Regions from separate parts of the Homo sapiens genome. Here all the other regions are linked to region 2. The links come from fine-mapping of genetic effects on gene expression. A gene starts in region 2. Each other region holds a variant in brackets. All regions are shown on one strand. Distances are between the middles of the regions.

The links. PIP is the estimated chance that this variant, and not a neighbour inherited with it, causes the effect.
Region 1: its variant is fine-mapped to the expression of GSK3B in whole blood (TOPMed, PIP above 0.99).
Region 3: its variant is fine-mapped to the expression of GSK3B in whole blood (INTERVAL, PIP 0.98).
Region 4: its variant is fine-mapped to the expression of GSK3B in whole blood (INTERVAL, PIP 0.94).
Region 5: its variant is fine-mapped to the expression of GSK3B in whole blood (INTERVAL, PIP above 0.99).

What each region holds. Positions count from the first base shown.
Region 1 is chr3:120,159,537-120,164,640 of GRCh38, forward strand. All of the region lies in intron 1 of LOC105374065 (a long non-coding RNA gene), which reads left to right. Among named protein-coding and RNA genes, the nearest start is that of GSK3B-DT, 67 kb to the left of the region's middle. The variant CCTCTT/C (reference allele first, on the strand shown) is at 2,504.
Region 2 is chr3:120,092,132-120,097,235 of GRCh38, forward strand. GSK3B (glycogen synthase kinase 3 beta) reads right to left here and starts at 2,316. Exons shown (of 11, transcript NM_001146156.2): 1 at 1,216-2,316. The coding sequence starts at 1,303. GSK3B-DT (GSK3B divergent transcript) reads left to right here and starts at 2,973. Exons shown (of 3, transcript NR_186629.1): 1 at 2,973-3,647. RefSeq lists enhancers at 2,495-2,904, 2,531-2,825, 3,105-3,424.
Region 3 is chr3:120,241,875-120,246,978 of GRCh38, forward strand. It overlaps GPR156 (G protein-coupled receptor 156), which reads right to left. Exons shown (of 10, transcript NM_153002.3): 2 at 2,129-2,604; 3 at 1,766-1,902. The coding sequence starts at 2,224. Among named protein-coding and RNA genes, the nearest start is that of GPR156, 41 kb to the right of the region's middle. RefSeq lists an enhancer at 838-2,037. The variant T/G (reference allele first, on the strand shown) is at 3,023.
Region 4 is chr3:119,887,808-119,892,911 of GRCh38, forward strand. The region is part of intron 7 of GSK3B (glycogen synthase kinase 3 beta); the gene reads right to left. Among named protein-coding and RNA genes, the nearest start is that of NR1I2, 110 kb to the left of the region's middle. The variant TA/T (reference allele first, on the strand shown) is at 2,937.
Region 5 is chr3:119,825,795-119,830,898 of GRCh38, forward strand. GSK3B (glycogen synthase kinase 3 beta) reads right to left here. Exons shown (of 11, transcript NM_001146156.2): 11 at 1-1,061. The coding sequence ends at 994. Among named protein-coding and RNA genes, the nearest start is that of NR1I2, 46 kb to the left of the region's middle. The variant C/CA (reference allele first, on the strand shown) is at 2,075.

The sequences.
Region 1 (5,104 bases), 67 kb after region 2:
GGGATTGTGGGCCGGGCTCAGTGGCTCACGCCTGTATTCCCAGCACTTTGGGAGGCCAAGGCGGGTGGATCACCTGAGTTAAGGAGTTCAAGACCAGTCTGGCCAACATGGCGAAACCCCATCTCTACTAAAAATACAAAAATTAGCCGGGCGTGGTGGTGGGCACCTGTAATCCCAGCTACTCAGGAGGCTGAGGCAGGAGAATCACTTGAACCTAAGAGGCGGAGGTTGCAGTGAGCCAAGATTGCACCACTGCACTCCAGCCTAGGTGACAGAGTGAGACTCCATCTCCAAAATAAAAAATAAAAAAGAAAAAGAAAAAGAAAAAAAAGAGATATTGTGGCTCTTCCCTCAGCTCAGTAGAAGATCTGAGAGTAGCACTGTTTCCATTTGCCACAGGGTCTTCTGGGTCTCTTGCGCAGAATCATCTTTTTGTGCCACTTACAAAGCACAATCCTTGAGAAAAGTTTTTCAGTTTGCAGGACTGACCGTGATCTTTTTAAACAGGGAGACTGCTTGCTGTCAGTATCACCTGTATTTTGCATTGAGCTTTCTGAAACTGAGGAGGACCAGGTAGCTCTAGGGAGCTCCCTTCCAGCCTCCAGGATGCTGATGCAATGACTGAGCAATGGAGAGTTTTGCAATATGCTTACAGAACCAGACCAGCTTGCTTTTCCTAAGGAAACCTTGGTGTCCTAAGAAAACCTCAGGCTGGGTCCCTGCCCTGCCGGGTTGAAATTCCTTCTGTCTTCTGGTAGCATGCCTGTAGCACATGCTCTGTAACCAGCTTTAGGGAGTCCACAAAAGGCTTTGGAATGAAGTCAAATTTCAGTGCAAACTCAGTCTCTGCCTCTAACCAGTTGTGTGATTTTTGGCAAGTGACCTAACCTCTCCCAGTTAAAGTTTCCTCATCTGTGAAACAGAGTCAATAACTACTTTGCTAGGTGGTTATAAATATTAAATAAGATGAGTATTAAGTGGTGCATAGCAGATTATCTTACATATATTTTCTTCTATTACAAAGTGCATAATATTTTTCTGTTTTTGTTTTTTTGAGACAGAGTCTTGCTCTGTCACCTAGGCTGGAGTGCAGTGGTGCGATCTCAGCTCTCTGCGAACTCCACCTCCTGGGTTCAAGTGATTCTTCTGCCTCAGCCTCCTGAGTAGCTGGGATTACAGGCACAAGCCACCACGCCTGGCTAATTTTTGTATTTTTAGTAGAGACGGGGTTTCACCATATTGGCCAGGCTGGTCTCAAACTCCTGACCTGAGGTGATGCACCCTCTTCGGACTCTCACATTGCTGGGATAACAGGCATGAGCCACTGCACCCAGCCAAAGTGCATAATATTTCTACTAAGGAAATTAGTGTCTCTTGGCTCCATCTTAAAAAAAAAATCGAATTTCCTGGCTTTCCAACTACACCTTTCCTTCTGGCCTCACCCTGATATTTGAGTTCTGCAGATGGATATGCTCCCTATAGTAAATGCACCTGTCTCAGATGGGTTCAGGCAGAAAATTCTATTTCCCCAAAAGTGGGCTGAGCCAAAAGGCTATCCTTGCTTTTCCAGATCTCTTCCCTCAGGAACAAATTGAAGACCAAGATGAGGAATTTTTGTGTAACACAAGAAAACATAAAGAGGATTTCTGCATATAAATCTGTGTTTTCCTTTGTAAGACTTTTTATCTACTTATTTTTATTCAACAAACATATGAAACTTGCTGCGTGCCAGGCACAGTTCAAACCATTTTACAAATATTAATTCATTTAGCCCTCATAACCTCATGAGGTAGGTGTTGTTACCCCAGGTGGCAGTTGGGAGCCTTTGAGCCATAAAGAGGTTCTGAACTTGCTGAAAGCAACATGGTCATGCAGGTGACTTGAAGCCCAGGCATCGCAGTGGGGATAGAAAATTATTGTACAAAAATTAATGAAGAGAGCACATCTAAAATGCCTTCTTTCCACAAAGGGTTCAAGATGTTATCACGGGGGATTTAAATTTAGGTGAAGCAGCAACACTGCCATCCATCACATAAGTTGAAGAGATACCTAAGCCTGGCTTCCCACTTGAACTTTTGTGAGCTGTGCTTCCCTGGGGTGCCCCTTAAGACAGTTCTGGTGAGGTCATTCTTCCTTCCTTGATTGATTTTTCTTTTGACAAGCATTTGCTGGGCATTGACCATGTGCCAGGCACAGTGCTAGGTACTGGATTCCAAGATAATTATAACAAGTTCTAAGCTCAAAGAGCTCACAGTCTTAACGGGAAAAGTGGAGAAATGAACAGTCACACATGCCCTAAAGAAAGGACTCTGCAAGGATATCTCTGCCATTCTTCGCAGAAGCAAGCCTCACCTCTCAACTTAGAACTGGCGTCAGTACATTTATTTATGTGAGAGGCAATTGCCACAAACTGTCCACATAGGATGCCTTTTGTTCTTTGATTGGCTTGCTCCTTCACCACATCTCTCTTCTCATCTCTCTGTTGTTTGGACTTCTTCTTCTT[CCTCTT/C]CTCTTCTCTTCTTCTTCTTCCTCTTCTCTTCTTCTTCCTCTTCCTCTTTCTCTTCCTCTTTCTTGTTGAGTTGAAGTTTCACTGGGTCACCCAGGCTGGATTGCGGTGTCACAATCATAACTCACTGCAGTCTCAACCTCCCAGGCTCAAGAGATCCTCCTGCCTCAGCCTCCCGAGTAGCTGGGACCACAGGCATGAGCCACCACACACAGCTGATTTTTTATTTTTTGTAGAGACAGGTTCTCACTCTGTTACCCAGGCTCGTCTTGGACTCCTGGGCTCAAGCAATCCTCCTGCCTTGTCCTTCCAAGGCATTGGGATTACAGGCGTGAGCCATGGGACCGTGCCTGAACTTCTTATCCATCTTCCCTTTTTTTCTCCTAGCCTTTTGCTTTCTTCTTAGTCACCCACAGACCTTTCCAGGGTGTCTCCCAGGCACTTATTCTCTGAGCCTAATGTTTCTTGGGAAACCTTGACACAGACCTTTTCAAGTTCACAACAGGTTTTGATTTGTGACATTGGCATTTCCTGTCTTCTTGTGACTTAAGTGGTGAACAAAACATCTCAAGATGTTCTCTTATTCAAATGTGGTTTGATTGGGGAATGCTAAGGTCAAGAATGTTTCAAGGAGCAAGACATCAGAGTGGGTGCCAGGGATAGGGAAAGCAAACTCTGAGGGCAAAGTGATAAGCTCTCTCCTGCTTTCAGCCTCCTAAACACCACTGTCTGCATTAAACCCTCCCTCTTGGGAGGCCGAGGCAGGCAGATCACGATGTCATGAGTTCAAGACCAGTGTGGCCAACATGGTGAAACCGCGTCTCTATTAAAAATACAAAAATCAGCCAGGTGTAGTGGCAGGTGCCTGTAATCCCAGCTACTTGGGAGGCTGAGGCAGGAGAATTGCTTGAACCCAGAAGGTGCAGGTTGCAGTGAGCTGAGACCACGCCACTGCACTCCAGCCAAGGCAACAGAATGAGACTCCATCTCAAAAAATAAAAATAAATAAATAAATAAATAAATAAACAAACAAACCCTTCCTTAACAGAGCCCAGATTGTGTTACTGGGAAAAGTGCAGTGGCCGGAGGGAATAGAGAAACTGTTTTGTTTGGAGTTCTGAGAAAGGGGACTCAGGAAGCTGTTGGTGATAGAGACAAACAGGTCTTTCTTCTGCTAATACTGCTTGTTACTCATTAACAAGCCTGCAAAGAAAACGTCTTTAAGACAAGAACTTTATCAAGAACTTTGCGCTTCTCTTCCATAAACTTCATTGCCCTGTTCCCCAACCCCCCAACAAACTTAAAGTACTGTCATTTTCAGAATTCAGTGACTCCTGGGTCTGCAGGTGATGTAGTTTCATGCTGTTAACTCACCGGAAGGCAGTGGAACCAGATGCGTGTTTTTCCTCCTGCTCCTCCGCTCTGGCCCCAAAACAGAAACTTTGCCTTCCTTTGTTTCACCCATTTATCTACCCAGAAATCCACCCATCTAGCATTTGTTGGGTGTATACTTTGTGCAAAGATCTGTAATGGCTACTCTAGAGGAGAAAAACGATGGAGAAGACATGCTCAATGCTTTCAGGAGCTTGGAATCTGTGGAGGAGACACATGTAAAGATAATACGATAAACACAGATACAGAAGAGATTTTATAGAACTTGCATTGACTTTTCTCTTTTCCTCTTTCAAAGTGATATCATTCTTTAAAAACAGGCCTCCTGCCTCTGATGCTTTTTTTCTCCTCTATGAACTCTAGGAAGGCCAAGTTGAACCTTTAAGGAAAGAGGGTTTGTGGCAGACCAGGACAGGGAAAGACATTGGGATCAGGATGGAATCCAAATGTTGAAATTCCAAGATTTTCAACAGCAGAGGACATATGCTGGGGTTAGAATCAGGCCTGGCTCCATGCTATGCCTTAGGACCAACAGAGACATGTATAGCTCAGATGACAGCAGCAGAGGCAATGTTTACTTCTCCAGGATTCCTTTGCACAATTTACTGCCCTTTCTTCAAGAGCAGAACAACCAAGAGCATGCCAAAAGTCATGGCACATTCAGCCCTTTAAGGATTTCATCACTGGATTAGCTGATCTTAGGTAAAAATTTAGGAAAGGAGGTGGGGAAGGGTAGGGGTGATGCACAGAGTAAATGATACATTTGGTGGCAACATTTTGTTGAGCACAGTTATGGTGTTTGCACATTGCTTTTGAACAAAATGATAAATTTCAATCAGGTCTGGCAAGCGTTACAAAGTCATTCTAGGTCAAATGGATAACAGAAGCCTCTATATAGTTGAGTCCAAAATACAGACCCTAAGACAGCCTTCCTTCTCTTTTTTCTCTTTCTTCTTTCTTTCTTCTCGAAACGGAGTCTTGCTCTGTCACCCAGGCTTGAGTGCAGTGGCACCATCTAGGCTTAGTACAACCTCTGTCTCCCGGTTCAAGCAATTTTCCTGCCTCAGGCTCCTGAGTAGCTGGGATTACAGGCATGTGCCACCCACGCCCGGCTAATTTTTGTATTTTTAGTAGAGACGGGGTTTCACCATGTTGGCCAGGCTGGTCTTGAAATCCTGACCTCGTCATCCGGCCGCCTCGGCCTCC
Region 2 (5,104 bases):
GCAAGTATGTTTAAACAAGCTATCATTAAATACCACATGAACTTCTCCATAAATAGAGATACACTGGAACATTAGATACTTAGTATATATTAAACACTTCAAGAGCATACTTTTCAGCACAAACCCAGGACAAGAGTAGTCTATCCACAACCCTGAACACAGCCCAAATATCCCTATTATTTCTAGGACCATAGCCATCTGCAAAAGCCAAAATGGAAAGGACTAAATCCACATTCTTCTAACTAAATCCACAGTTATCTAAATATGATGGAAACTAACGCTAGAGTGTTTTAAATCGTCCTTTTTAAGGAACCCGCCAGAACATTTAACAGGTAATGAATGCAGTAGCACTCCAAAATTGAACTTAAATGTAATGAGCCAGTGACAACATTTAACTTAGTATTTGGCACTATGACAAAACAAATCTCAATCAAAACTTGGACCTATTAATACTTCCAAGTTAACTTTTGATTAAACATAAATTATACGGTGGCAGGTTGGTAATGTCAAAACAGGAAGGTTAAGAGATAACACATCAAACCACTTATCCAATTGAACACAAATGCATACAGAGATGTTACTGCTGCTAGGTATTTATTGGCTCCCACTAGTCCCTTCTAAAGAGAGAAATCAATGGCAGCCTCCAAATGTGAATGGTTACTGAGGAAGTTCATCCACAGATTAAGAACAAATATTATGTGTAGTCATACAAACAAGAAAAAAATGTTGGGAGGGTGGGACATTTAACGTCTCTATTAAGTATATCAAACTATGATAACCCCTGAGACCTAAAATATTCTCTCATTCCAAATTCCAAAAATTCTGCAAATGTGCATAATGGTTTAGTAATCAAATCTTGTCCTTCTCTTTATTCTAAAGGATGGGCAAGTAAACACTGTCATCACTACTTTAACGTGGAAACACTCGAGCACTTGATGAAACTGACTACCAACAGCAAGAAAAGTACAAGAAAGCAGTTTGAAATCGAATCATCCAAATAAATATCATATTATCTCAATTCAAGGTTAATGAGACCGGGGGAGGGGGTATGGGAGGAGTAAAAAGGGAGCTGCTTCATCCTTGACTGAAGATAGGTTTTGCCCTTTTCCATTGCCTGTTTATCAGGAGGTCTAATAATTTCAGATCCTGGTATTTCGAGGTTTCTTATTTTAAGGGCGAGGTGGAAAAGGGGTGTAAAATAAAACCAATACTCACTGCTAACTTTCATGCTGCCAAAAGCTGAAGGCTGCTGCACCGGCTTGCAGCTCTCCGCAAAGGAGGTGGTTCTGGGCCGCCCTGACATGATCACTCTCTTCGCGAATCACCTTTTCCTTCCTTCCTCCTTTTCTTCCTTTTGTCTTTATGTTGGGGTGTTAGGTTAACGATAAATGCAGCATTAAGTTCTCCCACAGAAGAAAAAGAAAAAGACTTCGTCCTCTTGGCTTTTCACTCCTTTTGTATACTATAAAAAACAAAACAAGCGATATATTTCTCCTTCAAGACAGATCGGCACGGATATTTAACATATAGATGATTTAGGACTTGGGAAAAAATACAATTCTTTCCCCTCCCTTTCCTGGGAGGAGAGAAAAGAGAGGGCAAATCCTAAAAAAATATGTATCACGTGAAACGGGGGCAAATACTTGATTGAAAATGAGTACTTCGAATATTATATTTTCCTCGGGGATTTTTTTTCCGAGTCAATGAAGAAGGGAAGCGGCGGAAGGATCACGAGTCTCACGCTTGAAGAGAAAGGGGGATGGGTAGGAGGGAGGGAGAGGGAGGGAGGGGGTGGCTCGGAGATGCGACGGGAAACGCTGCAGCTCCGGCAAGCCGCGGGATCCGGCGGGCTGACGGCAGGGGCCCGGCGAACTAGAGGGCGGCGGAGTCGCGAGTCAGTCAGAGGCGGGCGGTGGCGGTGGCGGCGGCTCCTCTCCTCATTGCGCCAGGAGCAGCTGCAGGCGGCGGCTGGATCCAGCGGCCATGGCGGTGGCGGAGGCAGCTCCCTTCAGACCCCAGGCAGCGGCTCCTCGACTGTTCCCCATTCGCCGGGGACATGGGAACCCGGCAACCGCTTCCGTCCCTCGGGGCCCCCTCCCCCGTCCGCGGCAACAGCTCGGCCGCCCTCCCGCCCCTCGGCTCTGCTCGGTGCCCGCTCAGGAAGTGTCCGCGCTTTGCCCCAGCCCAGAGCCCTGTCAGCGGCTGCGGGGCCGGCTCCTCCTCGCTTCCTTCCTTCCTTTGTCACTTGGCCCGGGCGGCGGCGGCGGCGGCGGCGGCACAAGCCCGCATTCGCCCGGGTCAGGAGCTGCTCTGTGTGAGGAGCGCTGTCTGCGCAGCCGCCTTGCACTTCCCCACTCCTCCTCCCCCCTCCTACTCGTCCTCCACCTCCTTCCTCCCCCACCCAGCCTTACACCGCCCAGCGCCCCGCCGCCCGCGTAACAGGCGTCTGGGAATCGCCGGCCGAGCCCCACGCTCGCCCGCTTCGGCTGGGAGCCGAAGCCCGAACGGAGCCAATCACGGACGTCGTTTGTTTGCGGCTCCTCCCGGAAAAAGCCGATCAGCCTGAGAAACCAATTAGAAAGTGACGCTGGGAAGCCACGCCCAAAGAGCGGAAAATGCCGAAGGTAGCCGAACGGAAAGGGTGAATTCGCCTTGTTCGGTGGCTGGCTGGAGGAGACATTCGACAATGGCAACAGTGGCCAATCAGAGTCGCCGGCCCTTACGAAGAGGCTTGAAGAGTTGAGGACGGTGAAACCCAGAGACGCTGGTGAAACTGCACGGCTGGGCGCCGCCGCCGCTTTGTGATTGGCTGGAAAACTCCGCTGGGAGCGTACCTCCTTCGGTGATTGGTGAAGAGAAGGGGGCTTCCGAGGACAGTCTGGCCAGTCAGGACTTCCCCTCCCTCTCCAAGGTGGGGAGAAGAAAGCGAAGGGAGGGCGTCTATAAAGCGCTGTCTCATTGGCCTGAAGCTTAGGCGCTGGAGTTGGGGCAAAAGGGAGAGGGAGGGAGCCCGAAACTCGCGGCGGCGGCCAATCGGCTCTCACTGCCGTCCAATCGCAAGACCTAGCTGCAGTGTGATTGGCCTTCGGCCCCGGTCCCAGGAGCGGGGAGATGCCTGACTCGGGTCGTGGCTGACGACCCGACGGTTCGCCTGCGGCCGCCTCCAACAACGGTGGAAACCGCACACAGGGACCGCGGGCCCTCGGTGCAGCAAATCGGAAAGTGCTGCGGTCGGCGGCCCTGGGCTCTGAGCGCTCAAGCGAGCAGAGGGGTGGAGGGGCTCTCCCCACCCACAGGAGGCTCTCGGCGGGGCGCAGCCAATTCTGCGCGCCCAAGGCTCCCCTCTGCCGTGGATCGCGTGTGCCGAGTGTTGGCCTCTTCCCCGAAAGGGCCAGACGGACCAAGGGGGCCTTCCCAGCCGGCTGCAAGCTCTCAGACGCTAAAATGGGAACAAAGCTTCCAGAAAGGCAGCGCCTTTGGGCGGCCGCGCCCCGCCCAGCCGCGGGGGCCATTGATACAGAGGCTTGCTGCGCTTGGTGTGCGCGGCCCGGCCGGGCCTCTGGAAACGCCCATGAGAAATGAGCTCATGCTGGATGCGCGCGCTCCTTGGGCGCAACTGCCCAGCGCAAAACGGGCCCCGAAAGCAGGTGAGGGGAAATGCCGTCAGGCCGGATATCCTGAAGCCTCCGAGGAAATGGGGGGGTCAGAGGAGCCCGTGGTAGCTTTGGATCTTTTGGAACTAGGGTGATCTATAAAAGTGCAGCTTGAGAAGATTTCATACATAAGACCAGCGTCCATTGTTCTACCATAGAACCAGTTCCTTTGGTCTGCTTTAGAACAGTGAGGTATGGCTACGTCAAGATAACAGAGAAAGTAGAACAGACAGTTGCCATCCTGATTGTAATCCAGTGGTGCCTGTAATTTCTACCTGCAGAGTCATCTCTTTCTGTTAAGATGCTGTCTCCAGAAAGCACATGTTAAAGGACCTATATTTGATCAGATTACCTGGCTCTTGCTTTGAAACACTGATGAAGGACTTGGGACAGAACAAAGTAAGCTTTGATGGAAGACAGGAAAGGTCTAGATAGTGTTTGCAGATTCAAATGGCTACAGAGGCCAGACAAGTAAAGCAAATGAGTGAGACTGGCCTTGTGTAAGACAATGGGGAATGATAGGGAAAATGGCAAATTGGAATATCCATGCCATAACTAAAAGGAACAGCTGCTCAACTCTAGCAGATTGTTGCCCTCAGGAATGTGGGTCCAGTGTTCTCAGATGTTCAATTTTTTTCCTCCCAAAAGAAACCCCAAAATTGGATTTTTGTGTGAAATCTCTGCATTTTTAAATGTTGGTAACCAAATTTTCAAACCCTGCAGGCCAACCTAAAAACATCCCTTGGCCAATGAGGCATTGGAAAAAGTGTTAATAATTGTTAGGGGCCCGATAGCAGTAGGAGGGTGAAAACAAAATGGTTTGGGACCTTAAATAATTGAAATGTATCTTTATTTATTTATTTATTTTTGAGACGGAGTTTCACTCTTGTTGCCCAGGCTGGAGTGCAGTGGCGCGATCTCGGCTCACCGCAACCTCCGCCTCCCCGATTCAAGTGATTCTCCTGCCTCAGCCTCCCAAGTAGTTGGGATCACAGGCATGTGCCACCATGCCAGCTACTTTTGTATTTTTAGTAGAGACGGGGTTTCTTCATGTTGGTCAGGCTGGTCTCGAACTCCCGACCTCAGGTGATCTGCCTGCCTCAGCCTCACAGAGTGTCAGGATTACAGGCGTAAGCCACCACACCGGGCCGGTTGAAATTTATCTTTAAAATAGTGCACCTTTAATCCTTTTTTTATTTCTGTGTGTATCTTATAATGTGCATATCATGTTAGCTCAAGATCAAGAGTTTATGGACAAGCCAGGAGTGGTGGCTTATGACTGTAATCCCAGCAATTTGGGAGGCCGAGGCAGGTGGATCGCCTGAGGTTAGGAGTTCAAGACTAGCCTGGTCATCATGGTGAAACCCCGTCTCTACTAAAACTTTAAAACTTAGCTGGGCGTGGTGGCGGGCGTCTATAATACCAGTTACTTGGGAGGCTGAGGCAGGATA
Region 3 (5,104 bases), 150 kb after region 2:
AAGGCAAATGTCTTCTCCACTTCTTCATCTACTCCTACAGCCTCATCTTGTAGGGAAGACACAAGTTCTTAAGCCATTAAGCCAGACACTACTTGCACCAAGGGAAGGAACTGCCAAGCTTAAAGCTTCCTTTACTAGCTGTGAGAAAGCTTGCCCCTGAATGTTTAAATTATTGATTTGCTGGGGGAAAAGTAACATATGAATCAATGACATAATTTTCTTATTACCAACTGGGTAATACCAATTGAGTATTACTTTGCATTATAGAAACATGTTACAGCTGAAAAGACTGTACTCCATAGTTCTCTAACCTTGAAATGCATGATTTTCCCAGTCACTTTGTTGGCAGCAGCCACCGTTGGGATTTAAATCTCTTTCCTCCCAGGATCACTGGATGCATATTTACTGAGCACCTATTATATCCCAGAGTCTGTTCTAAATGCTGGAGACACAGTGGTGGGCACAAGAGGACAGGCAAAGTCCCTGTGTTCACAGAATTCCATTCTGGTAGGGGATACAGACAATCAACAGGTAAATCAACAAATATGGTAATAGCAGACTATGCTTGCTATAAGGAACATAAAACAGGCTGATAGGATATGGAATGAGATGAGGGGGTGATCATGGGTAGGGATACTACTTTAGATAGGATGATCAGGGAAGGTGTCTCTGAAGAGGTGACACTGGAGCCAAGACCTATAAGATGAGAAGGAACTAGTCATGGGAATATCTGAGGAGGACTTCCAGGCAGAGGGAACAGTACAGGAACAGTAAGTACAAAAGCCTTGAGATGGGAGTCAGCGTAGTGTGCTTGAGGAACAGAATGAAAAGTGGCTGAGGCAGTCTCTGGGGTATACTCTAGTTGGAGTGCCACGTATCACCACCATGCTGAGGCTGACCCAACAACCAATCACTGCTGCTTAACAATTCCACGTCCTCCATGCCTAACATGGCAAAACAGCATCCCAAAATGCAACTGACCAATTCTCATCTGAGTGTCAAATCCACAGGCAATGGAGCACGACATGCTTGGTCACCACACAGGGTAAGGCTGGAGTGGGGCTGGACGAGTTTGGCTGGTTTGAGGAAGTTGTTAATTTCTGATTGTGGGCTCCATCTAGAAGTCAGCTGTGGGCTAAGGAGAGGGCTGGAGCAGGGCTTCTCATGAGGCACCCTGGGACGGCTGTGGTAGGATGAGGGTACAGTGTGGGGGTGGGAGAGATGGGATGGGCCCTGAGGAAGGATGAAATTGCATCCAAGGCAAGGTGCTATAAGTCCCTTCAGAAAAAAGTCACCATTTTGCTTCTTTTGCGAATCCTGGGAGCCATACTTACCCTGATAAGCTGATGACTTTCTAGTCAGCCAGAATTATCTAGCAAATAGCCAGGTAGCAGTGCTTCACTGCTTTTGCAGAAACCCTAACTCACCCAGACTGGTTCTGCTGTGCTGTCCTCAAGTTTTTGTGTTGTTTTGGAATCCTCTACATGGTCTTCATTTTAAATACAGATACCTCATCTTCTCAGAAGGATTGTACCTCCATTATAGAGAGAGACTCTTCATTCTCTTCTTTGGATACCCTTGCAGTAGTTAGCACAATACCGACCTAGATCTTTCCCCTTCTCAACAGGTAGACTATTTCAGAGGGAATGTCTCATGTGGTTTAATCCTGTAGTGGGAGACCAGATAGTGGCTTGTGCTGCCAAAAGATACTAACATTTGGGATTTCATGATTGAGCTATGTGTGATGAGAAACTGGGCTGCTTACCTGTTCTTCCTGCAGTGAATTGTAAAGGCAAGAAAGAAAAGTATCAGCAGAAGTCCACAGCTGAGAAAAGTCCAAACAATACCCAAGAGGACAGGAGATAATGAAGAGATGGTCTTACTGCTGTGGTGGGAAGATGTCTGAGGACAGAATAAGGAGGAGCTGTTAGGAATGAAGGATCTTCTATAGGTCAAAAACAAACTGCCCCATCGTCACCAAGTGCTGGGAAATATGTATCCTGCATGAGCAGTTTCTCCTCCCACTCCTCCCCTTCCTCATCCCCCTTTCCCTCCACCTCCTCCTCCCCAACACCACCACCACCACATACATCTGAGCAGCCCTGGCATCCTGTGGCTGCTCACTTACAATTGTTGTCTTGCAGAGATCATGAAGGGGTCTCCGATCCAGCTCCTGGCCAGGAAAACTGTCACACAATTCAGAGCAGTTTATTTCAGGCTCCATGTCACCACATGCCCCTGTTGGTGTGTGCTTATTCACAGTCTTGGTTACCCACTGGTAGGGATGTAGATCTTTGACTAAGACACAAGAGCAACTCAAATCTTTTCTTCAGAGGCCCCATTTTGGAGCTGGCTGCAGGCTCAGAATCCAGAGTGAACAACCCATTCAGGTAGAAGCAAAGGGTTATTTCGCTAGGCTCCTTCATCAGACATCCTTCAACTGGTGACCCTCCAAAGTCAGACATCCTTCAACTGGTCCCCTGCTGCGAGTGCATGCCATGTGAGTCAAGAGTGGACATCTTAGTAACCATCAGGCTACACAAGGTGATGATTCTGGTTAACCACCAGATGGCAGTCACTGTTCGAGTACCCTCACTCTGGTTCCTGAAGAAAGGAAAGCAATTAAACCTGTTAAACAAAGGCATGTATACACACACACACACACACACACACACACACACACACACACACACACGTAAATGGTTTATTAGAGAGGTTTTAAAATATCATCTATTTTAATTATATAGTTATATTTTATTATACACTTTATTATATATATTACAAAGGTATCAAATATCATATATTTAAATCAACATATTTTAAGCCATTATAGTAAATAATATTTTTAAAACAAAGATAAAGCATATCTAACATTTTCTGCAGTTTCTTTTCAGATCCTGTTTATGGCCCAGTACTGTAAAGACCTTAGCTTAGACTTGTGAGCCACATTTTTCTTTTTTCCATACTGGGAAACCCAGTGCCCTCCCAAGATCTTTCTAGGCAGCTCATGGCTTAAGTTCTG[T/G]CTGATCCTGGATGGTGCTGGGCTCAGGTGCCCCATGCTGTCTCCACACATGATCTGTCGGTCACTCTAGCTCTTGTTCTCTCTAGCTCTTGTTCTCTATGTCCAGTCGGCTGGGGTCAAAGAAAGGTACCCAAGCTGCCTGCAAGAGTCTTTGTGTGTTTGTATTTAAACTGTGAGACTAACAGGCGTGAGATAGACTACTCAGGCAATAGGGAAAGAAACTGGGGAGCTCTAGGAACTCCTGCAGAGTGAGTGGCTGGCCAGAGGATGGTGTTATTTCTCTCAGAAGATCCTTGCAATATGAATAATGTGATCTAAAGAGAAGCTCAGCCTTGTGGAACAAAGACAGAAAGGCAAAAAGGCTCAAATTAGCACCAGTAGAAAAGATAGCCATATCCCTAATTCTTTAAAACAATCAATCCCTTAATAGAGAAAATAGATTTGAAATTTTACCAGTGGTAATCTAAAAGAGGCTGCCACTTCTGCTTTGTATTTTTTAAACAGCTTAGCACAGTTTTCTTTGATTGTGGAGGAAAATTGGACAAGGCAAAAATATCCATTACTATTATCTCAATAGCCACTGAACACAGGGCCCATGTTTAAGCCAGAACAACAGTGACAGGTGGAGAGTGCCATCTTTGGAGTCTGTGTGCTTAGGCACAAATAATATAGCACCAGGTGCTGACCATTCATTGGCCTCTCATATGTTCCTGAATTATTTACCAGGTTTATTACAATGAAATCCCAAGAGAACTAAAAGCCACTATCTCCCATCAAGGCATTTAAATTATTGCATATTCTAGTCAGATTATTGAATGCAAAATTAAGAAGCAAATATAAAAACCTATTTGCATTCTAATTTAGTTGAGATTTTAATTGCTAGAAAGATATTTTTTCTTTTCTTTTTTTTTAAAGTTAGAGATTTCCTATTGTGCCTTCTAGCACAGAACCATACTGCAACCACAGGGAGGATTATTACAACATGATGGATTAGAAGAAAATGTATTTTTCCTATATTGCCCTTTTAATCATAGTGGCAAATAAGTACACTTATATTTGAACCATTATTCATTCAATGTTTATATATTATTATATCATTTGGAAGAAGTGTATATGTATATGTATGGGTGTATATATACATAAAACCTCATTTTGTCCTCACTACAGTGTTTTGTGATGTAAACACCATTCCTCATTTTCAAATAAGTAAACTGAAAAGCAGAGAAGAAGAAAACCCTGCTCCAAATCTGCAGAGGCAAGAATCCCAGGAGTTTACATTCCAAGGTCAATGTCATCCCAGTATACACTCCACATGGTGCAGACACTCTGGACTAACTTCTTCCAAGAAGATACCAAGGGGCCTCTTGGGTTTCTTCAGCTTTAGTTCCCAGAGGTGCACTTCTGTGGGCTCCCTAGAGCTTGGCATGCCATAGTGCCTCTTTACCAGTAGTTCTCAACTATGCAATTTTGCACCTTTAGGGGACATTTGGCAATTCTGGAGACATCTGTGGTTGTCAAAATTAAGAGAAGGATGCTATTCACATCTAGTAGGTAGATGCCAAGGATGCTGCTAAACATACTATAATTCACAGGATGGTCTGAACAACAAAGAATTATCTGGCCCCAAATGTCAACAGTGCTAAGGTTAAGAAACCCTGGTCAACACTGTGCACCCCAGGTGGGCTGACAATCTTAAACTTAAATTATCTTTGAGGGATTCTGTAAATATGATGGGGTTGTCCATCTGAGCCTAAAGTCCTGGGGGATGCAACTCTGACTTGGAATAAATTTCTGAGCACATTCTAGAGGTACCCTTGGATAAGCTAAACTCACTGGCTTGGAACCCTGAATGCTAGGCCCCTCTTCAGTCCATGGATATCCAGTGTAGAAACTTTATATACCGTGATATTGGGCTCCTACATGGGACAGGCATTAAACTGCAAACTTGGCACACATTCAGAGAGATTCACACAAGAGGAGCTGATGAAACAATGAAGGGCTCAATCATTGAAAGGAAAGAGTTGAATGGTTTCAAAAAGTGTTTAGTGATTGGGAAAGTGGGTGGGGAGTTATCAGAGAGGG
Region 4 (5,104 bases), 200 kb before region 2:
ATCAACTGATAAAAGCCACTCACAAAGTGAAAATCTTCAAGAATGCCAGAAACACATTATAGACAGGGTATATACAGGGTATCAACAGTTGACTTCTTAACAGAAACAATGAAAGCCAGAAGAAAATAGAGATCTCTCCAAAAACTGAAGGAAAAATAAACCCTGGAAACCAAGGGAAACCAATTTCTGCATCAAGTGAAAATATCCTTCAAAATACATTTTTAGGCAAACAAAAGCTAACCAAGTTTGTCACCAGCAGATCTTCACCACAAAAAAGTAGTTCAGGATTAAAGAAAGACTTCTGAAATGGGCATTCTGATCTACACAAAGGAATAGAGAGCACCAAAAATGGTAAATATGTGGTTAAATGTATGATATTTCCCCCTCATTAAAAAATTCCTCTTGAAGAAATTGTTTAAAGCAAAGTAACAACTGTTGCGGGAAGTCAGGGACCCTGAACACAGGGACCAGCTGGAGCCACGGCAGAGGAACATAAATTGTGAAGATTTCATTTTAATATGGACATTTATCAGTTCCCAAATAATACTCTTATAATTTCTTAAGCCTGTCTTTACTTCAATCTCTGAACATAAATTGTGAAGATTTCATTTTAATATGGACATTTATCAGTTCCCCAAATTAACAGTTCTGTAATTTCTTATGCCTGTCTTTTTTTTACTTTAATCTCTTAATCCTGTTATCTTCATAAGCTGAGGATGTACGTCACCTCAGGCCCACTATTGTGTTAACTGTACAAATTGACTGTAAAGCACGTGTGTTTGAACAATATGAAATCGGTGCACCTTGAAAAAGAACAGAATAACAGCAATTTTCAGGGAACTAGGGAAGACAACCATAAGGTCTGACTGCCTGCAGGGTTGGGCAAAATAGAGCCATATTTTTCTTCTTGCAGAGAGCCTATAAATGGATGTGCAAATAGGGAAGATATCACTAAATTCTTTTCCTAGCAAGGATTAATACTCTGGGAAAGAAATGCATTCCTTGGGGGAGGTCTATAAACGGCTGCTCTGGGAGTGTCTGTCTTATGCCATAGAGATAAGGACTGAAATCCGCCCTGGTCTCCTGCAGTACCCTCAGGCTTAGCAGGGTGGGGAAAAATCCCGCCCTGGTAAATTTGAGGTCAGACCAGTTCTCTGCTCTCAAACCCTGCTTTCTGTTAAGATGTTTATCAAGACAATACGTGCACTGCAGAACATAGACCCTTATCAAAAGTTCTGCCTTTTGTCCTTTGTCCTGTTTCCTCACAAGCATGTGATCTTTGTTCTGCCTTTTGCCCTATGAAACATGTGATCTTGGGACCTACTCCCTGTTCTTGCATCCCCTCCCCTTTTGAAATCCTTAATAAAACTTGCTGGTTTTGCAGCTCAGGTGGGCATCACGGTTCTACTGATATGTGATGTCACCCCCGGAGGCCGAGCTGTAAAATTCCTCTCTTTGTACTCTTTCTCTTTATTTCTCAGCCAGCCGACACTCATGGAAAATAGAAAAAACCTATGTTGAAATATTAGGGGCGGGTTCCCCCTATAAACAACAAATATTGTAAGGATTATAACATGTAGAATTAAAAAGTATGAAAACTATAGCACAAAGAACAGGAAGGGGAATGGAAATACTGTCACACGGTTCTTGTTTTCTATATGACATGGTACATTACTACTTGAAGACTGACTGTAATATATTGATGCATATTTTAAATCCTAGACCAACCTCTAAAAATGCAACAAGGAGGTATAGCTTAAAAGCCAATAGAAAAAATAAAAACCACTGATTTAATCCATAGGTGGCAGTAAAAGAGGGGGAAAAACAGAGCAAAGGAAAGATGGGATGAAAGGAAAACAAATACGAAGGTGCAAAACTTAAACTCAACCACAGTGATAATTACACTGAATGTAAATAGTCTAAGTACTTCAATTACAAAGGCAGAAATTGTCAAACTCAATTAAAAAACACCTAACTATATGTCTGTAAGAAATGCACTTTAAATTAAAACACATAGAGTAAAAGTAAAAGAATGCAAGAAGTTATACCATGCAAAATCATAAGAAAGATAGAGTGCCTATATTAATATTAGAAAATGAAGACTTCAGGATAAGAAAATTAAACAAAAATAAAGAGGGGCATTTCCTAATGATAAAAGTCATTTTAAGACTAAATCTAAAATTATTGAGAATACCATGTGTTGATGAGAATGTGAAGCACTGGAATTCTGATGTGTTGTTGGTGGGAGTGTAAAATAGTAAAACTGCTTTGGAAAATAGTTTGGTAACCATACACTTACCATATGATCAGCAATTTCAGCCCTACTTTTTTATTCAAGAGAAATATAAACATATGTCTGCAAAAACACCTGTAAACAAACATTCATAGGAGCTTTACTCATAATAACCAAAACCCCAAAACAAGTCAAATGTCCATTCATAGGTGAATGGATAAAGAAATTGTGGTATACTCATAAAACAGAATACAACTTAGCATAAAAAGGAATAAACAGGTGATACAGGCAGCAACACTGACGAATCTCAAAAACATGGTACTGAGCAAAAAAAGCCAGATACAAAAGAAATATATGATTTCGTTTATGAAATTCTAGAATAGGCATCTGTAGTGACAGAAAATAGATCAATGATCACCTGAGACAGAAGATGGGAAACTGACCACAAAGGAGAATGAACAGGGTGACCAACCATCCCAGTTTGCCTGGGACCATCTTGGCAAACCCCTCAGTCCAGGCAAACTGAGACATTTGGTCATTCCAGGCTATAAAAAGAAACATTTTTAGGGTGATAGAAATGTTCTAAATCTTGACCAGGGTAGTGGTTATATGGGCATGTTTGTTGGAATTTACTAAACTGTCATTTAAAATGCCTATATTTTATTACATATAAATTATATTTCTATTAACTTGATTTAAAAAG[TA/T]AAAAAAAAAAAAAAAGGGACCATTATGTAATTTGTGTTGCCTTTACTAAATGCAAACAGAAGTTTAACCTTCTTAAATTGCTATTTATAAGGCTAGCATTAAAAGTATCAGAATCTGTCAAACCCTAAAATCAGAACTATTTTATATACAATATGCATATTTTTTAAGAAAGCAAAGATGAGACATAATCAAGAGGCATTTAAAAAACTTTTCAGCCTCTGAAGTTATTCACATTTCAAAACGTTTACTTAGAGCCTATTCCTCAAGAAGCTCTAGGGCAGAGAGACTTGTACGTAAATCAACAACAATCAGGTGACAATAGTATAGCAAAGTAAGTATAGGTAATGTGTGAGGTGAAAGTGCTACACTGCACTGGAAAGAGGAAGGGATTCAGGAAAGGTTCTGGAAGGGGAGTCAAGAGCTGATTTTACTTAAGGAATGTAGCAGGCAAATGAGTAAAAAGTACATTCTATGCACACTAGATGTGTAGGTGAAAAACAGCATTCTAAAAGAGAATAAGGACTGGATTATAGATGGATGATATAATTAAAGGCTAAAAGGTAAGCAAGTGATAGATATGAAGAGCAAAGATTCAGAACGCATGACTATCTTTAACACCACAAACATAAGACATTTTAACAACTATCCTATTTCAACCTCTGAGTATATCTTTAGGTTTTATATTAAGTTTTTATTAGGTTCAGAGTATATTTCTACCTGATTTACTCCAGCTGAATTCTACATTTGGAACTTTTGAAACAGAATAATTGAATAATTTTATAGATAAAAAAGATGTTTGACAAATTATCATTTCATACACAAAACAAGTCTTAGGGTTCACTTGAATTTTAAGAGATGGAAATTTTTTTTCCTCCAAAACGTTTAGACTAAAGACATATATTTTGAGTAATTAATACTTATTCCTGGATTTCCTGAAAACTGAGTCCTTTTTTGACTTAAAGGAAATTAAACTAGATGGAAATGCTTTATGCACTCTTCTGTAAGTGTATTTCATACAAAAGAGGGGGGAATTTTAAAAATTATCACACCAATGGGAAGGGAACATATTCTCAGTTATCTATTACTAGAACTCATGATCTTTTCATTTGTTGCAAAAAGCATCAAGATCAGCCTGCCCCACCCCTTTGGGGATGTTGTTCATCCCCTTACTATTAAATCAATCAATTTATCTGTTCCTGGCCCTACCTAGTTAGAAATTTATCCAAACACTGAAAAATATCAACACAGGAATTATGAGTTGATAATTACTGTCTTCAAAGAAGTACTACGGCCCAAGAAGCACCTCACAAAAAGCAACTGACAAGCTCTGAAACGCTAGTATTTCTTCCACAACGTTGTTTATTTTATAGTTCAACACCAGAGGTCGCCAAACTTCAGCAATAGAGGTGCATGTGTAGCCTTTAAGAGCGAAGTAAAAGAAAACCTATTAGAAATGTCGCTACTCCGCTTAAAATCCTGCAATTGCTTCCAACTGCTTACAAGCTAATGTGATCTGGCCACTGTCAACAGCTCCAGTCTTCTCCTTCCTGGTAAACTCATATTCTATCAACCCCACCAGGCAGAACCTTAAGCGACAACCATAAAGAAACACACCAAACCTAGTTTTACTAAATATTTATCCACTCCCTTCCGCTCCCTATCTGGTAAATACTTTTTCATGTTTCAATATTCAGCTCAATGGTTAGCTCTCCTAAGAAGGCTTTCCAGACAGCACTACTCTGAGTGAAATGCTTCTGCCTTTGTATTCTGCTCAGACATCTGGAATAATACTGGGCTTGCCCTATTGCCCTCAGTTCCTCTCCTCCCATCCATCAGTCTCTGAAGCCCCTGAAGGCAAGAAACCTCTAAGTTCTTGCCCAGCACCTAGTAAAAACTGTTCACTAAATTAACGCATGTAGTTAATGTGGTATGCACCTTGAAAGACTAAAGGGATGTATGGCTAGGCTTATAGATAATGAATTCAATAAAGGTTTTAAAAATGAAATTATATAACACAACATAATCATTGTATAAATGGTTGAATACCTAAACATCTTCATTTATTTTCTGCATATGGAATTTGGAGTGTTGGGTTGTGTTAGATTGGCTGCTATATCCTCAAAAGGACAAATTTTTCTAAATAGAAAACATGTATTCTGTTTCAAA
Region 5 (5,104 bases), 270 kb before region 2:
TACAATGTCCTCTCAAGTGTATCTTTCCAAGGGAAGTAACTTTAGAAAAAAATCTGGACAAACTTATTCACAGTGGTGAGATGTATCCCTGACCTGTCCCCTTCCTCTGGGCTCATCAGCCTTTGACCTCAGCAGCTAGCTCAGCCTGCTCAACACCCCTTCCATCTCCTCCCAGGTCACTAGTTTGAAACTGTGCTAAGATTTGCAAAGAACTTTGGTCAGGCAAACAAAGAGCCACCTGTAGAGCATGTGTGCCTGAGTCTTGCTTGCTGCTTCCCCTCTGGCAGCCTCCTGTACAAGCCTCTACATCACTAGCACTAACTGAGAGCAAAACAAAACCTTAACAAATCTACTAAGAATCTTCCCTGTAGAGTTCCAAACTTTATTGACCTCCCTGGGTTACGAATGATACACATTTCTTTGTCTGCCACACCTGCCACCAACATGCCAAAGGCAAGTCTATAAATACCCGAAGATATGGATTAATTTTACAAGTGACATTTAAGTCCCCGTTGAGTTATACCTGCTAAGCTCCCAACCAATTTCAAGCTGTGCACTATACCAAAGTCTCACACTAGACTTTAAAAGAAAACAAAGTTCAAAAAAACCCATCAGCACAGAAAAAGGTTTTCTTCTTTTGTGGAAGGGGCATGAGGCAGGAGTCCTGTTTTTAAAGTATACAACAGCAGACTTTTAATAAAAAAAGATTGTCGTGGGAGAGAGATTGTATGTTCTAGTGCTCCGCTTTCCCCCTCCCCACAACCCCTCCCACCCCCTGGATCTCCCTCAAAGTGAGAATACAATGAAATTGGTTTGTATTTATAGATATTTTACAAGGTTAAATAAGAACAACAATAATAATAAAAAAATTGAACACTAAAATGAACAGGATTTTTTTCTCTTTTTAATATTCTTTCCAAACGTGACCAGTGTTGCTGAGTGACACTCAAGTAACTGGTGGTTTTTCCTGTGCAGCTGGCTGCTCGGGACTGTTCAGGTGGAGTTGGAAGCTGATGCAGAAGCAGCATTATTGGTCTGTCCACGGTCTCCAGTATTAGCATCTGCAAGTCAAAAAGTCCCAAGAGAGAGCATGAGCAATGCTATAACAACAAAAGAGAACAAGTACACTGTTTCAACTGCAGGCTGTGAACTGTATGGCCTTCCAAGCTGTTATTTGGAACGTTGTTTTAAATAAGGCCAACACTATGAAATCTGAATTTCTCTATTCTTGGATTTAAGTTCATGCCTCAGCATGGTCCTGGTACCGGGAAGACAGTGTCTTTGAATAAGTTGCAGACTCAGGGAGCCAGAGACCATTTCAGTCAAAGCTCTTGCTACAGCTGGGATCAGCTGTATATGAACACTCAGCTGGAGTCTAGTTCACTTGAAAATAAATGAACAGTGCACAGCTGGGAAAACTTGCTAAAAATTTGAACCATGTTACAATATGCCATCTGCTTAAGTAAGTAAATAGGTGGAGGCAATGAAAGTAACGTGGGTCAGTGTTGATGGGCAGAACAGACCCTCTTCATTATTCATAGAGATGGAAGACAGACAACCAGCAAAAAAGAAACAGCAACTGCAGTACCAATTCACTTAGTCAATTTAATAAAGCATCTTGTATCAACAGATGAATGGATAAAAGAAAATGTGGTATATATACACAATGGGGTAATATGTAGCCATAAGAGAGAAAGATGGGAGGCTAAGTGGGAGGACTGCTTGAGCCAGAGAGGTTGAGGCTGCAAGTGAGCCAAGACCACCTGGGAGACACAGTAAGATACCGTCTTTAAAAAAAAAAAAAAAAAAAAAAAAGAGAGAGAGAGAGAAGAAAGAAAAGAGAAAAGAAAAAGAAAAAGAATGAGATCCTGCCATTTGCAACAACATGGATGGAACTGAAGTCATTATGTGAAGTGAAATAAGCCAGACAGAGAAAGACAAACTTTGCATGTTCTCACTTATTTGTAGGAGCTAAAATTTAAAACAACTGAACTCACGGAGTTAGAGAGAAGGATTGTTACCAGAGGTTGGGAAGGGTAGCGGGGGTGGGGGAAGTGGGGATGGTTAATGGGTA[C/CA]AAAAAAAAAAATGTATAAGACCTAGTATTTGCTAGCAAAACAGGGTGACTACAGTACAAAAATAATTTAATTGTACATTTTAAAATAACAAAGTATGACTGGATTGTTTGTAACATAAAGGATAAATGCTTGAGGTGATGAATATCCCATTTACCCTGATATGATTATTACACATTCCATGTCTATATCAAAATATCTCAGGTAACCCATAAATATATACACCTACTATGTCCCCACAAAAATTAAAAATTAAGAAAAGGAAAGCATCTTGTAGTCAAATCTTGACGTAGAACTTACTTAGAGCTTACTTTGCCCTAATCTTTTAGAAATACGTACAACTCTACAACTAACCATTATCTCCTCCCCCCTTTTAAGGTCTATTATTATTTCACAGCATCCATTAACATTTAAGTGGGCATCTAACTGTGTCCAAATTGGTTTAGTAGACTGCTGTTTTAGTGGCTATCAAGTTGCATCCTTGTCATCTCTCTTAATGACAGAGAAGGTACTGCTGGCCAAATTTTCTCCCAAAGATTTCACACTAAGCCCTGAGCAAGAGAGGTAGCTTGACTGGGATGGGCAACTTTGAAAAGCCATCTCTCTAGAAGCCACAATGCCATCAAGGTTGGTGACACCGAAAGGCAGACTCAGAAGTTTTTTTCTCTCTAGGACTGAAGGGATTTGTAGATCTACCATGTGCTATGGTGAGTAGAATAACCAATGTCATGGTTGAATGCAACGTTTGGTCCTGGATCTTTCTACTTTGAATTTCTGAATTAGAGGGAGACACAGAATATCCAAGGACACATAGGGAACTCTATGATGGATTAGCTGTTCAGTTTATCATTTCTAAAGCCAATCTATAAAAATTATACTTCCTAATTTCCCGATAAGCTGCCCTTATATACATTTAGCACAGCCTTTGGGGAAGGAATGTGAATATCTCTTAATGTGAATGATTAGGTTTAATTCATTTAATTTCCTTCAAAATAGCTAAAGCTGCTTCTAATCTTGTTGTCATGTACACAAGTGAAGATATTATGGCATCAGAATCCACACATTAGGTTCATATAGCCCATGTAATGGGGTCATATTAATTCATCAGTATGGCAAATGAACAGGTGGCAGGAAAGGGTATATGACACAGAACCTACTCTCCAAAGCCAGGCTGACCACCTTTTCTAACAATCACTGAGGAACTATGCTAACACTTCATTCGTGACTCCTGACCTTCCTTAGATATGCCCTGTTTAAAGAAGTTTTACCCTTAATGATCATCCACATTCTGTGCATCAATAACCTAACATCAATTCCTGTCTAGACCACAGATTCCTCCAAGCCTTTCTCAGATAAAATGTTCATTTTCATGATTCATGCACAGGCTGCATTAAAAAAAAAATCCAGAGAAAACCTGGAACACCACAAACCCATGCTTATTGCAGCATGTCACATGCTCTGATGACACTCAGAACCTATGCATGACCATCATCCAACAGCATTTCCTTCTCATTTTCAGTATGGGAAGATAACAGGTAGAACTGTCATTCTGGTCTTCCCCAGGACTTATGGGAGGCACTGATCATCAGAAATTTATCTATCTGTTTGACCACTACATCAGCACCCATGCCAACATGGAGAGAGCAGCTCTGGCCACGGCAGCCATTAACTACACTGGCTGACATCAGTTTTACCTCATCTACATGGCCACCAGCCCATTTATGTTAATTTGCTCTTTAGCAAAATCCTATTTGGCATTAATGTGCAGATGTCCTTTCACTGACTACAGCCTGTGAGCTTGTGACATTGCCAAAACCAGTCTCCTCTTTCTTGGATAAATTCAACGACTGCTTGCATGATCACAGTAAAAAGCACAAGCCTTTTAAGTGAGCATAAAACCAGAAACAAATTCACTTTCTGAACAATAAAATTTGATAGACACCCATGCTCTTCAGACCTGTAATGATCTCATATTTTTCTCTTGAATTATTTTCAAATCACTTAATGAACATAATTTTAACGCTAATTATTTTGATTATAAATATCTTTGATATCGAAAGTCACAGTCCTACAGACATTCATCAAAAAAACTTTTGCCTGATGCAATGAGCTCCACTTAAAATCAAATCACACATGTCCTTGCTGAGAAGAACAGAGTTCTCTTTTTCAGAGGAAGACAAAGTACAGAGAGGGAAAAAGTAAAACAAAAAAAGGCAAAGTTCTATAAATTCAATACTCAATAGTAGGTTTAAAAGACCACCCAGCTTACTGACTGAGTAAAGTTACATTTCATAATCTCTACAATCCCATCATAAAGATGGACTGGCCCCTGGGCCAGGTAAAGTAGGAGGAGCTGACCTCTTGGTGGCTGGGAAGAAACTAGTTCAAGATCAGGAAACAAGACAACACAGATTACCACCTTTTTAGAAATAACTCAAGAAACAAATCTTGGCACATGCTTATTTTGTTCCCACCATCACTCTGTAAATTTATTTTACACAATGGAATCTGAATTAATGAGCTTTCTATTAAAATGTTTATTAATTTAAAATTCCGATAAATTGTCATTGGATTTAGTTTAGTGTAATTTCTGTAACTTTTCTTCTCAAACATTTAAATAGTGACTCCACAACATAAAAACAGCAAAGTTCATTTTACTTCTCCTTACATTCCCTTCCCGTTACATATGCACTGGTAAAGTGACGCTAAATGGCATTATGGTTTAAAAGAGAGGCTAAGATCATTTTCATTATAAATGATCTGACTATGGATCATTAACCCACTCTAGTCTCTTGTTTTCAACCAGAGATGCTCTTCTGAACTTCACACTGATACATCTTTCTTAAAACTAAACCAACTCTATAAACATTTATTGAGTATGAAGCCTACTTGTACAACTTAATAGCTGTGTGATTTTGGAACACGTTATTTAATCTATCTCTCATTTCCTCATTGGTAAAATGGTAGTAATACCACCCACCTATGAAATGAGGCCTATGAAGTGCTTAGCACAGTATCTGGCATACAGCAAT